Regions from separate parts of the Homo sapiens genome. Here regions 2 and 3 are each reported to be linked to region 1. Evidence: microRNA targets listed by miRTarBase, many of them from high-throughput screens and not tested one by one. Region 1 holds a microRNA gene; each other region holds the end of a gene's coding sequence.
The links. Region 1 holds the annotated microRNA hsa-miR-548e-3p (AAAAACUGAGACUACUUUUGCA, at 2,654-2,675, opposite strand). A microRNA usually pairs through its seed, bases 2 to 8, with sites in the 3' UTR of a target mRNA and lowers its output. Matches are read on the target gene's strand: a 7mer-m8 pairs with bases 2 to 8, a 7mer-A1 pairs with bases 2 to 7 and ends in A, and an 8mer does both.

Region 2: the mRNA of EML6 is a reported target of hsa-miR-548e-3p. Seed matches in the 3' UTR shown: 7mer-A1 at 3,514-3,520 and 7mer-A1 at 3,150-3,156.
Region 3: the mRNA of DGKE is a reported target of hsa-miR-548e-3p. Seed matches in the 3' UTR shown: 7mer-A1 at 2,565-2,571.

What each region holds. Positions count from the first base shown.
Region 1 is chr10:110,987,653-110,991,652 of GRCh38, reverse strand. MIR548E (microRNA 548e) reads right to left here and starts at 2,727; the gene lies at 2,640-2,727. The region is part of intron 3 of SHOC2 (SHOC2 leucine rich repeat scaffold protein); the gene reads right to left.
Region 2 is chr2:54,969,454-54,973,819 of GRCh38, reverse strand. It overlaps EML6 (EMAP like 6), which reads right to left. Exons shown (of 42, transcript NM_001039753.4): 42 at 1,795-3,749. The coding sequence ends at 3,725. RTN4 (reticulon 4) reads left to right here. Exons shown (of 9, transcript NM_020532.5): 8 at 199-257; 9 at 622-1,631. The coding sequence ends at 664. Among named protein-coding and RNA genes, the nearest start is that of RTN4, 79 kb to the left of the region's middle.
Region 3 is chr17:56,861,872-56,866,237 of GRCh38, reverse strand. It overlaps DGKE (diacylglycerol kinase epsilon), which reads right to left. Exons shown (of 12, transcript NM_003647.3): 10 at 4,320-4,366; 11 at 3,987-4,098; 12 at 1-3,626. The coding sequence ends at 3,447. The region is part of intron 1 of LOC124904037 (a long non-coding RNA gene); the gene reads left to right. Among named protein-coding and RNA genes, the nearest start is that of MIR3614, 27 kb to the left of the region's middle.

The sequences.
Region 1 (4,000 bases):
AAGGATGGAGAAAGATAAAGTAATTATTTTAATAAACATGGTAATCGATAAATGACTACAATATCATAAAAAGTTTCAATAAATATTACTAATTTACTTTGCCATTTACTCAGAGTAACAGCTGTACTATACTTGGTGACAACCATCAAAGCATATAAAAGTAAATGCAATGTTATTTAAAATTTTCTTGTTGTTAATGTTTCAGTTCTCATTGATTTCCAATTTGTAATACTGTAATCTGGCCCTATAGAATAAGCTAGAGGTGAGGCATATGTGTTATTCTAGGATAACATCTAAACTACAAGAGATTAATAATAAAATCAAATGTTTTCATATTAGTAAACACACTTAAAACACAGAAGAATTACCTCCAATAGGACACTAATCCTACTTACTAGAAGACTGTATCATATATCACCACCTATGCTTTCTCTGTTTACCAGGATTATTCATTTCAGTACTTTAATCGCATGCCCCTTTGACTGTTATTTAACAAGTTTGAGATACAGACACATATATAAAAATATTAAATAATAAAATATTGTTAGACTATTTGAGACAGAGAAGAAGGCCGAATGAAAATCATGCTATATATATCTATCTGATCAGTTGAAGGAGCAGGCAAAGTTACACAGATATTTAGGAGAAAAGAGTTCTAAACAGAGAGATGGGAAGCACAAAGATCTCAAGGCTAGAATTTACCTGATATGTTCAAGAAACAATAAAATGTCTAGCATGTTTAATATCCTAAGATATACATAGTGACTAAACATCAATGAGAGGGATAAGAAAATCACTTGATAACATTTCAAGTATCTTAAATTTTGGTTCTCCTGTCTGATTTGCAGTAGAGTAAAGCAACATTTTGTTGTGTTTTTTTTTGTTTTTTGTTTTTGTTTTTTTTGAGCAGTAGCAAGATTTATTGCAAAGAGCGAAAGAACAAAGCTTCCACAGTGTGGAAGGGGACCCGAGTGGGTTGCCAATGCTGGCTCCGGCAGCCTGCTTTTATTCTCTTATCTGGCCCCACCCACGTCCTGCTGATTGGTAGAGCCGAGTGGCCTGTTTTGTCAGGGCGCTGATTGGTGCGTTTACAATCCCTGAGCTAGATACAAAGGTTCTCCACGTCCCCATCAGATTAGTTAGATACAGAGTTTCGACACACAGGTTCTCCAAGGCCCCACCAGAGCAGCTAGATACAGAGTGTTGATTGGTGCACTCACAAACCTTGAGCTAAACACAGGGTGCTGATTGGTGTATTTACAATCCCTGAGCTAGACATAAAGGTTCTCCACGTCCCCACCAGAGCACCTAGATACAGAGTGTCCATTGGTGCACTCACAAACCTTGAGCTAAACACAGGGTGCTGATTGGTGTATTTACAATCCCTGAGCTAGACATAAAGACTCTCCACGTCCCCACCAGACTCAGGAGCCCAGCTGGCTTCACCTAGTGGATCCCGCACCAGGGCTGCAGGTGGAGCTGCCTGCCAGTCCCGCGCCATGCGCTCGCCTTCCTCAGCCCTTGAACATTTTGTTTTTCTAAGACTAAGAATTTGGATCTTATAAAGTCATTTTTTGAAAGTGCTTTTATGTGACATTCCACTGAAAGTGATTATGATGAGATTATGCATTATTCTTTCTTTTCTTCTTTACCATTCCAATTAGTTTGTTGTTCATACTAACCAAACTTACAGATACATATTTTAATGTAAAAACATACAACACAAACTAAATATGTCACTGTGTGACATATTTACTATACTGAACACTATACTGAATATACACTGAATATATATGGCAAACAGAAAGCATATATACCCTGAATATATACTGAATATACTGAAGAACACTGTACTGAAATAAAACTTAAACCTATATGTTGAATTGGCCCAGAGTATACTAGGAAAATATGATCCTGAAAAATAAACACTGATAAATAAAATATAGTTCTTAAAATTTCAGAAATCTAGAAATAATACTTTGGCTGGCCAAGCAAAATGACTAAGTCACTTATCATGGGGAAAAAAGAAAATGGACTGGCCTCTTATTTTTGTACATTCAATTCCAGAAGAAGGTAGAACTACCTGTTAACAAGTTCTACTGAGATCCTCAAGGAAAGGCAGTTTGATCCAATTATTTTGTATCTATCTAAATTGTTCTTAAATTATAAAAGCTACACACATGCAAGAACTATAGGAGAATACTGCTCCCATGAACCATTTTTGAGCAAATGACTACCAACCAGATTGACTTCAGCCAACCAAGAAATGACTGAGGCAACTATGGCAACAGGACTGCTGATAAACATTAAGACTAAAACAAAAATGGGAATTAGTACAACAAGGTATGTTACCTATGCTGACAATGCAGTTAACAAAAATAAGAAGAAAAAGAGACTCCTCCAGAAACGGCAGAAAGTAGAATAAACTCATTGATTGCCTCATCTGTACCATGATTCATATTTATGGATCACTCCACCCAACAAAAGTAGAATACACATTAAACTGCACATGGAATACTTTTACCATGATGAAAGAATTCAAGTCCTATCAGGAATGTTCTTGACCACAATGGAGGTAAATTAGAAGTCAATAATATATCATGGAAAATTGTCAAGCTTTTGGGAACAAAATAACATTCTTCTATCAGGTTGGTGCAAAAGTAGTCTCAGTTTTTGCCTTTAAAAGTAATAGCAAAAACCGCGATTGCTTTTGTACCAACCTAATAAAGCCATAGATCACAGAAGAAACAAAAGGGTAAATTAGAAAAAACTTTTAAAAGGAAAATACAACATATCAGAATTTGTGGGATGCTGCTGAAGCAGTACTTAAGGGGAAATTTACAGTGCTAACTGTCTTTATGAGAATAATAGAAAGGTCTCAAATTAATGACCTCAAGCTGCCACCATAAGAAACTAGAAAAAGAACAAATAAAACTCAAAGTAAGCTGGTGAAATAAAGTTCAAAATGGAAATCAATGAAATAAAAACCAGAGAAACAATAGGGAAAATCAATAAAACTAAGAGAGGATCAACACAATTGATATACTTCTAACCAGAATGATTAAGAAAAAGAGAAAACATACAAATTCTTGATATCAGGAATTAGAGAGGTGGCATTACTATAGATTCTACAGATATTAAAATAATAAGAATGTTATGAACAACTTAATGCTTTTAAATGTGATAATTGAAATAAAACAAATATATTCCTTGAAAGACCCATATGACCAAGTTTGCTGAAGAAGAAAGTGATAACCTGAATAGCCCTATATTTATTAAAGTAATTGAAATTGCTTTAAAACAAATTCCCATAAAGAAAAGTCCTGTCCTGGATGGCTTCACTGGTGAATTTTATCAAATATTAAAGGAAGAAATAATGCAATTTCATACAAACTATTCCAAAAATTGAACATACGTAGCCAGCATTACCCTGAAACCAAAAACCAGGTAAAGATAGGTTGTATAACATTACATGTGAATTTATTATTTATTCAAAACAAATACATCTAATATTTAAAACTACCACCAGAATGTAACTTTTTAATTTATTTCTTCTTGGTAAGCAATTTTGGTCTTATTATCCGGGTTTTTATCAAGTTCAGGGAAACATTATAAAATTATATTTTATAACTATCACCACTATTTGGCCTTCTGGAACGTCTAGTCCTATCTGCCATGACTTTTTAACTTTTCACTTCTTTTGTATACATTTCTTTTTGATCTAGATTCTAGGGGACTTTTAATTTATCCTAGAGATCATCACTTTGGTCTCTGGCTGTGTTCATTTGGTTATATGGAATTTTCCATTAAATTTGATTTGGCAAACATATCTCTAAGAATTGTATTTTATTCTTTGTTCCCTTTTTGTATCAGCCTCATCATGTTTTAAACATGCAGTTTAAATATCCTATGTTTTTTTTCTCCTAAGGTCACATCTCCTTGTTCATCTTGGCCATTTCAATAGATTTTAAAGAGAAAAAAAAGCATGAAATAATTGTGC
Region 2 (4,366 bases), not on the chromosome of region 1:
TAATTTCCTAACTAACTGCTGACTTCAGAATAGAGCACTCACTCTATTACATGGGATTTACGGATGTATTAGTGCCCATTTTCAATGTCTTACAAAAATGAGAAGTGTGATGGTTTCTTAAGCCTTTAGCTTGACACATAGTAGTGGTTAATAAGATTCTTTAGCAACGGTAATAATTCCTTTATACCTCTCTTTCAGGCACAGATAGATCATTATCTAGGACTTGCAAATAAGAATGTTAAAGATGCTATGGCTAAGTAAGTATTTAAAATCTGCAGTGTTTTTACTAGGATAAGGTGTGCTGGATTGTGAGAACAGTATTTTCATATTGCAGGCATAATGAGTAACAAATCTCTATCAGACCTTAAGTGTGACTTCAGAGTTGCCAAAAGATTGTTTTTCTAACATTTGGACCATTCGTTTCTGGGTTTATTATGTGTTTAAGGCTTTGTTTAAATCTAATTCATGAGGCCAAGGTGGCAAAATTATAGCTTAGAATTAGGCAGCTTTAAGGATTTCATTTATTGTATTAGCTGAATAACATACAAGTAGTTCTTGGAAGATGGTATTTTAAGCAGCAGCAAACAAAACTGATATTTACATTGACTTTTTCATTTTCAGAATCCAAGCAAAAATCCCTGGATTGAAGCGCAAAGCTGAATGAAAACGCCCAAAATAATTAGTAGGAGTTCATCTTTAAAGGGGATATTCATTTGATTATACGGGGGAGGGTCAGGGAAGAACGAACCTTGACGTTGCAGTGCAGTTTCACAGATCGTTGTTAGATCTTTATTTTTAGCCATGCACTGTTGTGAGGAAAAATTACCTGTCTTGACTGCCATGTGTTCATCATCTTAAGTATTGTAAGCTGCTATGTATGGATTTAAACCGTAATCATATCTTTTTCCTATCTATCTGAGGCACTGGTGGAATAAAAAACCTGTATATTTTACTTTGTTGCAGATAGTCTTGCCGCATCTTGGCAAGTTGCAGAGATGGTGGAGCTAGAAAAAAAAAAAAAAAAGCCCTTTTCAGTTTGTGCACTGTGTATGGTCCGTGTAGATTGATGCAGATTTTCTGAAATGAAATGTTTGTTTAGACGAGATCATACCGGTAAAGCAGGAATGACAAAGCTTGCTTTTCTGGTATGTTCTAGGTGTATTGTGACTTTTACTGTTATATTAATTGCCAATATAAGTAAATATAGATTATATATGTATAGTGTTTCACAAAGCTTAGACCTTTACCTTCCAGCCACCCCACAGTGCTTGATATTTCAGAGTCAGTCATTGGTTATACATGTGTAGTTCCAAAGCACATAAGCTAGAAGAAGAAATATTTCTAGGAGCACTACCATCTGTTTTCAACATGAAATGCCACACACATAGAACTCCAACATCAATTTCATTGCACAGACTGACTGTAGTTAATTTTGTCACAGAATCTATGGACTGAATCTAATGCTTCCAAAAATGTTGTTTGTTTGCAAATATCAAACATTGTTATGCAAGAAATTATTAATTACAAAATGAAGATTTATACCATTGTGGTTTAAGCTGTACTGAACTAAATCTGTGGAATGCATTGTGAACTGTAAAAGCAAAGTATCAATAAAGCTTATAGACTTAAAATATGCTTTGGTATTTTCATTTCATGAAATTGCAGCAGATTAAAAATGCACACAGTGGGTAAACTGCTTCAACCAGCGAATGGTAGCTTGTGCTTTTAGAAGGGTTTTTTTCAGCTGATGGTGCAGCTGTTTGTTTGTTTACTGTGGAAACAAAAGTCAACAAATGTGTTTACATAATCAAATTTTATTTGACACATAAAATGTTTAAGTGATGTGTTTTATACTTTGAAAATAAATTCATGCACCAATGTTTTAACTCACATATATCATACAGTGCAGGATTTATGAACATACATAAAATCAAAATCATACCATATAAACGTTTACAAATAAGTTTTTCATGACACACGGACACTATTGCTCTTTAAATATGGTTGTACATGTCATCATTAATCGATTCATTGTTCTTCCACATGGTTATTTCAATGCAAGATCCGATCAGCATGAAGAGTCTAGTACAAGATAGGCAGACATGGTTATCACTCTGCATCACCAGTCACATGGTTACAGAAAACAGAATTGGGACTGCATAGGGACTCTACTGCGGGCCCAACAACCTATTAGTGGATTGATGTAAGGCATTAGTAAATTGGCATATAAAAATAGCTTAATGAGTGATCTAATCCATTTAGAATGCTGAAGCACTTCTGTGGTAAATGTTAGTCTATTCTACAATTGAAAATGCCTCATTTTACCTTTTCTCTAAACTGACAAATGCAAGTAGCCAGTAACTGTAGGTCTAGAATTTTCGTTCACTGACCAGAAGGACTAATAGGCGTCTATGTGCTCAGAACCACCAGTCCCGCACCAACTCTCCTTTCAGTGAGCACTGTCAGCCACATCCTGTAGTCACTGGTCAGCTACATGGAAAGTGTGACTGAGGGGCTTACGGATGGCTTCTGGTAAAGATTGTCCAAGTCATATTCCGTCATACAACCAACTCCAAGGAACTCTAACTCACTTTATAATTTTGATTTACCAGCTATTCCTTGGGTTTACAATTTGTTCTGCAGATAATTTTTTTATAATCTGGACTTGACCTATATAGTTCGCCTGAAGCAATCAAATGAAGTCACCTCAACTCCACTCAGGGTGGTACACCAAGGTGCAGCCTTGGGTTACCCTCATTTATCTTAAGATTTAACGAGATAAGTCAGCTCATTCTCATAGACCTTCCTGAGCCTTTTTCCCCTTCCATTTTGTAGTAGAAGTTTGTTTAACTTGAATTCTATTTTGGATTTTGTGGGTTTGGCATGAAACACAATGAAAACCCATAATTCTACCCTGTCCCGAACTTCAATTCCTTTGCTGCTCACCTTCCCATAAGCAGGTAACCGATGTCTTTCATTTAGGAAGCCTTGGCGTGAACACAGGACAAGGGTGACACACTGAATCTGCTAAGGGTCCTGCAGCCCTCCTCAGCTTTGAGGTTTTAGCACCATATGGAGAAAGGAGAAATTGGTGGGAGGTGAGACAGCAGCCCACACAACTGGAAACTTTCAAAGGCACTTAATGGATATAAAACTCTGCAAATGAAACATTTAAAAATTAAGTTTCTCAACTCCTTTATACATGGCTCATTTGGTTTTGAAAGCTAAACTGGAGAACAGAGGCTAGCGATATTTCTAGTACTTCGGTGCATCTAACTTAGGCTGTCTTGTTCAACTTATTTGTAAAAATGAACATTCTTGAAGTATATAGAAACAATAGCAAAACATCTTTGTAAAAGTTTTGATGCAAATTAAAAGCTACATATTGGTTAGGGTAACCGAGGCTTCAAAATTCGTCAGCGGGCTACATTATCAGATAGGATTTCTTTGTCAATGTAGTTAGTATGTATACTGTTTAGTCTCAGGAACAGAGGCAAGCAGTCTTTAACATTTTAAAACTTGACCTTCCTTCGTGGCATCACGGTTTTGGAGAGTCCAGATTATGGGAGCAGTTGTGTAACTTCTGCAGCGTTTTGAGCTTGTGCATCCGGGGCAGCATGGTAGGCATTTCCCAACGGCTGGTGGCAAGGAGGCACCTCAGCATGGCCTCTGCAGTTGCTGGCTGGTAGCAGCAGCAGCAATAACATAAGAGGCTTCTGGCATTTTACAGACATCGCCACACAAATACACTGAAAAGGCAGATCAAACAGTCATTTTGCATAGCTGGACATCATACTTGTGTCAAGTGGCAAAAAACAATCTTGCCAAGTGCTCAAAAGTCAAGCTCGGGTGATGTATTGAACATTTTGACTTCAAAAGGTAAACCAGGGATCTTGCCACCAAATTAAGATCTATTGCTTTTCTTAAAAGGTCTGTTTTTTTCAGTTGAGTTCTGTTTGGTTCTTTCAGCAGTTTGAATGTCTGTGCTAAATGTTGGTCCGTGAGGACTTCTGGCACTTTGATATCACACTCTCTCCTGTTACTATTGAAAAGGTTTATCACCTCCACTTGAGTCAGAGAGCCCTTTTGAGTGTTTAGCACAGAACCAGGGATCACAGCATGCTCCCATGCCTACAAAGGCCTGCAAGCCCTGCACGGTTAAGGCCACTTCTTTTTTATATTAAAACAAGTCTGTATCCCCTGCATTGGGGTGACCAATTCATTTACGTCTTTTACTCCTAGCTTGTTCACAATTGGGTTGGTGCTGCTTTGAAGGGGTGTTAGCACTTCACAGGGAGCTGCTGGCGGTACTATCTCAAGGGCTATAAGTGCCAGAAGTAGCCAGCACAGCAGGCTGGAGATGGGG
Region 3 (4,366 bases), not on the chromosome of region 1:
GATAGCCTGCAGCGCGTACTCTGAAGAACAAGAGAAAGGCTTCAAGGGAAAAATTGAAAAAGACAGGGGGACACTGTTTAAAAGCAAAACCCAAACCACCTTTTCTGTCTTGTTGCTGAGAATGAATTCAGATTGGGATAAACAACCTTTTCTTTCTTTTTAAATATCTAGATATTTTAAATATATCTACTTATATTCCACTGTCCTCAACTGGGTAGAAATATTAAAAAAATTATCAATATAAAATGCTGGTTCTTGCTTCAATATTATCATTTTGAAGGAAAACCACACAAAACCATTACCCATTCTAATGACTTTTTTGGCCAAATTATGTATTTGGGTCCACATTAATCATTAAATTAGTATAACCTTTAAAGTTTTCAAGTTAGTGCAAATTTAAAATTCAATAAATATATTAAATACAATTTTACTTTATATTACAAATGTAAATTATTTTTCTTTTGACATGCTGGTAGTATTCATTTTTACAACGCAAACTGACTTTACAATTTCTGAGTCACAGTATATTTTATAACTCTAAGCAAATGTATTTCACAAAGCAAACACTATATGTTTTTGACATACTCTAAAAAAATAAAAATAAATAATTTTGATTATAAAATTTGTATAAACTTAGCTACATTAGGGGTTCACAGCTAATTGTTGCAGAAAACCTAAAACACACCTAAATCATGTAACTTTACTAGCAGACAACTTGTATTTTAAAACACAAGTCAGTTTGATTTCTATTAAACATGACGAAACACTGAAAATTATCATCATCTGCCTAAGGGATCTTTAAGAGCTGCCAGGTATTCAGTATTTAAGCCACTACGTTTATAGGAATTAGGAATGTATTGGGATAGTAAAAAGATTAGAGAAATCTGGAAACAGACATGGAGATATGATTTACTTCATGTATTTCTTCCTGAGAATGTAGAAGTTATTTTTTTAAATATCAAGACAATTTAAAATGGAACAGGAAAATCTTATGGCAATTTTTTTTGGTAAAGTGTAGAATCCCTGGTAATATAAACAATCACTACCCTAATATGTAACTTGCAAACATGAAGTCTTATAAATTGTACTTAAACAAGGCACATGCCTATACACTTATTTGAAATGCTGGGTAAATGTGCCCAAAAAGTAAGTGAATTTTGCAAAAACAAGATAATGATACATTTTATGAGATGGTATTCTGAAATAGCTTCCCTAAATGAAGTCTAAATAAGTGAATAAGCCAGCAGAAAAACTTCATGACAGACCAGTAGTGATGCAAAAACCTTACTAGATTACAATAACCAAAAAATCAACTTATTTAGATAAATGAGGGCATTTTACATAAGCCTGTTCTAAATACAGTGTAATATTATGGTTGGTATTAAAATTATAATTTTTAATTGTAGTTTTCACAATTAAAAAGCTGTATTAGTTATTGTGATTATTTTCGTTCCAACATCCTAAATTGATTTGCTTCTACTACAATTAGCACTACGAATTATATAACAGGTAAACTATAACCTACAGCAAAGTGGATTTAACAGTGTATTTATAAAATGTGATGTCTTTAACAATTTTGATCATGAATGAAAGGATAAACTTCATAATACTCAGAACATGATTGGCCCATTAAAAAAAAAAAAAACAAAACTCTGCCATCCTCACTGCCATGGTTACTTACCATGAAAGGTATATAAAGAAGCTGAAAACAGATCTGCTCACAAAGTTTCTCAAGACTAGAATTTAAGATCACCTGAGGAGATCTGCAAGAGGTTAATTTAGCAAAATAGAGTATTTCATAAAATGTACTGACTACTGTATACATTACTAAGTTGCTCTTTGAAAACATGGTCTGGGCCTGAGGTGAGGCAAACTTAGGTTTATGGCAATTCATGGATGACAGATTCATAATAGACCCTCAAAGATAGCTAATGGTATTTTGGGGGATACATTCTGATCTTTCAGAGATTAATGTCATGAAAGACCACAAAGCCTGGGCCATGTGTCAGAAAAACACCAGGCTGGATGCCCTCTGGGTCAGCCGACCTGTGGGTCACGACCCTTGGGCTGGTCAACAGCAGCGAACAAGCACCCTCTAATGGGAACCATGAAACTAGCCCTTCAGTAAGTTTGTGGCAATTGAGGGGCAAATAAAACAATGAAACAAAGCTTTCAGTTATCCAAAAGTAGTTCCCTAGTGCTTTTCATGCCCTCCTTCATTTTTCAATACAATGAGGAATATTTGTGAAGAATAAGAATATCTAGATTTCTGTCAGGAGAATTAAATTAGAATTTTAATTAATAGACTAAATTTCTATCTGATTGTGACTAGCAGAATTTATGTGATCAATTTAACTTATTAAATAAAGCTACAGAACGTAAACACTAAACACAGGTACCATACCACAAGGTAAATAATAAATAATTTAAAAATATATCTCTCTCATTTTAAAATAAATATGATATAAACATTTTAGCAAAGATTTCTGTCCACTTACCTCCCTAAGGGGAAATTCTGTTAAAAGACTACTGTATTTCAAAATACTACAAGACCACCAAATTTTTAAAACTTATCAGTCAGCCTTGAGCTTTTTCTAAGCAATTAATCTCACCGTTGTCTCCTTTAAGCACGTTTTTTGAAGTGTTGACACTGTCTTTTAATAAAAAGAGCGGCTGATAAACAGTTCAGCTCAGAACCTATAACTTACAATCCCAAGTGCTCTGAATCTTATTTCTTACCAATTCACTTATCTGTTTCTCTTTTGGCTACACTGGTGTTATAAAAAAGATCCTGAATTGCAGCTCAAATGGTTACCTACAGAATTAAACAACATTTACGTGTCTGAATAAGTTCCTAAAATAAAAATTGTAATACAAATTTTAAGTATGATCTTTTTTTACTATTCTCCTTTTGGGGGTTCCTAGAAATCAATACATACACTTGGTTTGGGTTGTAGAAAATCTTAAGGGGCATGCTGCAGGAGGATGCTCACAATTAACCATGCTGGTTTGACAGTAATCATTTCCTTTCAAAAAAGCAGGTTAATTTGATCTTTCCACCCACACCTTGTTGGAGATATAATGTGTCCATCCATTGTGTGTCCATCATATGCATGGTTCAAAAATAAGACATGAGACAGCACATACTTCAGAGTGAGTCCCACTCTCAAAACAGTCATAACAAATTTTCACTCTCATGTAAGTTTTTGTGACTTTTTGTAAGTTAATACTATTCATTTGAAGTATTTTGCTGAAAAAAGAACAAACATTTGTAAATAACTGAAGGCTGGCTGGTTTGGGGATGCTATTTACAAAAATGTATACCCATTATACTACTAGTGAAATTAAGACTGAATAGCTGATAGAGAATTTCTATTAATACTTTTGGATGAACATGTATCTACTTGCGTGAGGATTCTATGCAAAGTTTTCACTCCCTCATCCATCTATTCAGTCGCCTTTATATCTTCTTGATCCGAAGTACTAGAGATGTCATCATCTGTTTGTTCTCCAGAGAAATATAACATCATTGCATGTGTCTTGTGAGTTATGGTGACAGTGCAGGGCCCTTGGGCCCAAGGCTCCCCATCCACCTGCATTGGCATCATGGAGCACTTCAAAATCAGCTGATATTAGGGAACAAATAATGTTTAAAAGTCAGTCCCCCCAAATTTAGAAAGGTCTTCCTTAATAATACCATCCACAATCCCTTAACCCTTATGCATTTCATTTTTAGAAAATATTAATCTGAATATGTTTTTATTCATTGATTAAGGAATTCTTTTTTCAAGTGAACGTTTTATCTCATGGATCTTGAGCCATGTTTCTGTTTCTTCCTCATCCCACTCTAGCCGCTAGTGTACAGTGACCAGCTGCATGAGCCATAAACCACTGTTTAAAGAAAAGTATAGCATGTATATTTTACATATCAACAGCTTAGAATTGGATTGGGACAAATTAGCCTGTTACAGCTATATTTCACCTACCCTCACTGTATGTGCCTGTCCTATTCGAAAAGGATTAGCCAGTTTTACTTGAATCTGAGCACAGTGGAAAGACCCATATACTCCAACGACTTCCAGCAGACCATCGTCATGCCTAAAATTGGAAAAAGAAAATATGGATTATATGATGCAATAAAAAATCAGTTATGCTAGAGCAATTACTTTTTAACACAGTTGGACCATCAACTTAAAAAATATTTATAACTAATGAGATACACAAAAAAGAAAATTTGAGGAAAAATGTTAAAGTCTATAAACAAGAGATTGCTTTAAATAAAATAGTGACATAAAAAAACAGACCACAAATGTACATACCTGGCTAGAGGGTAAGTCTCGTCCCCCATCCCTTCCCATAGTCTGCA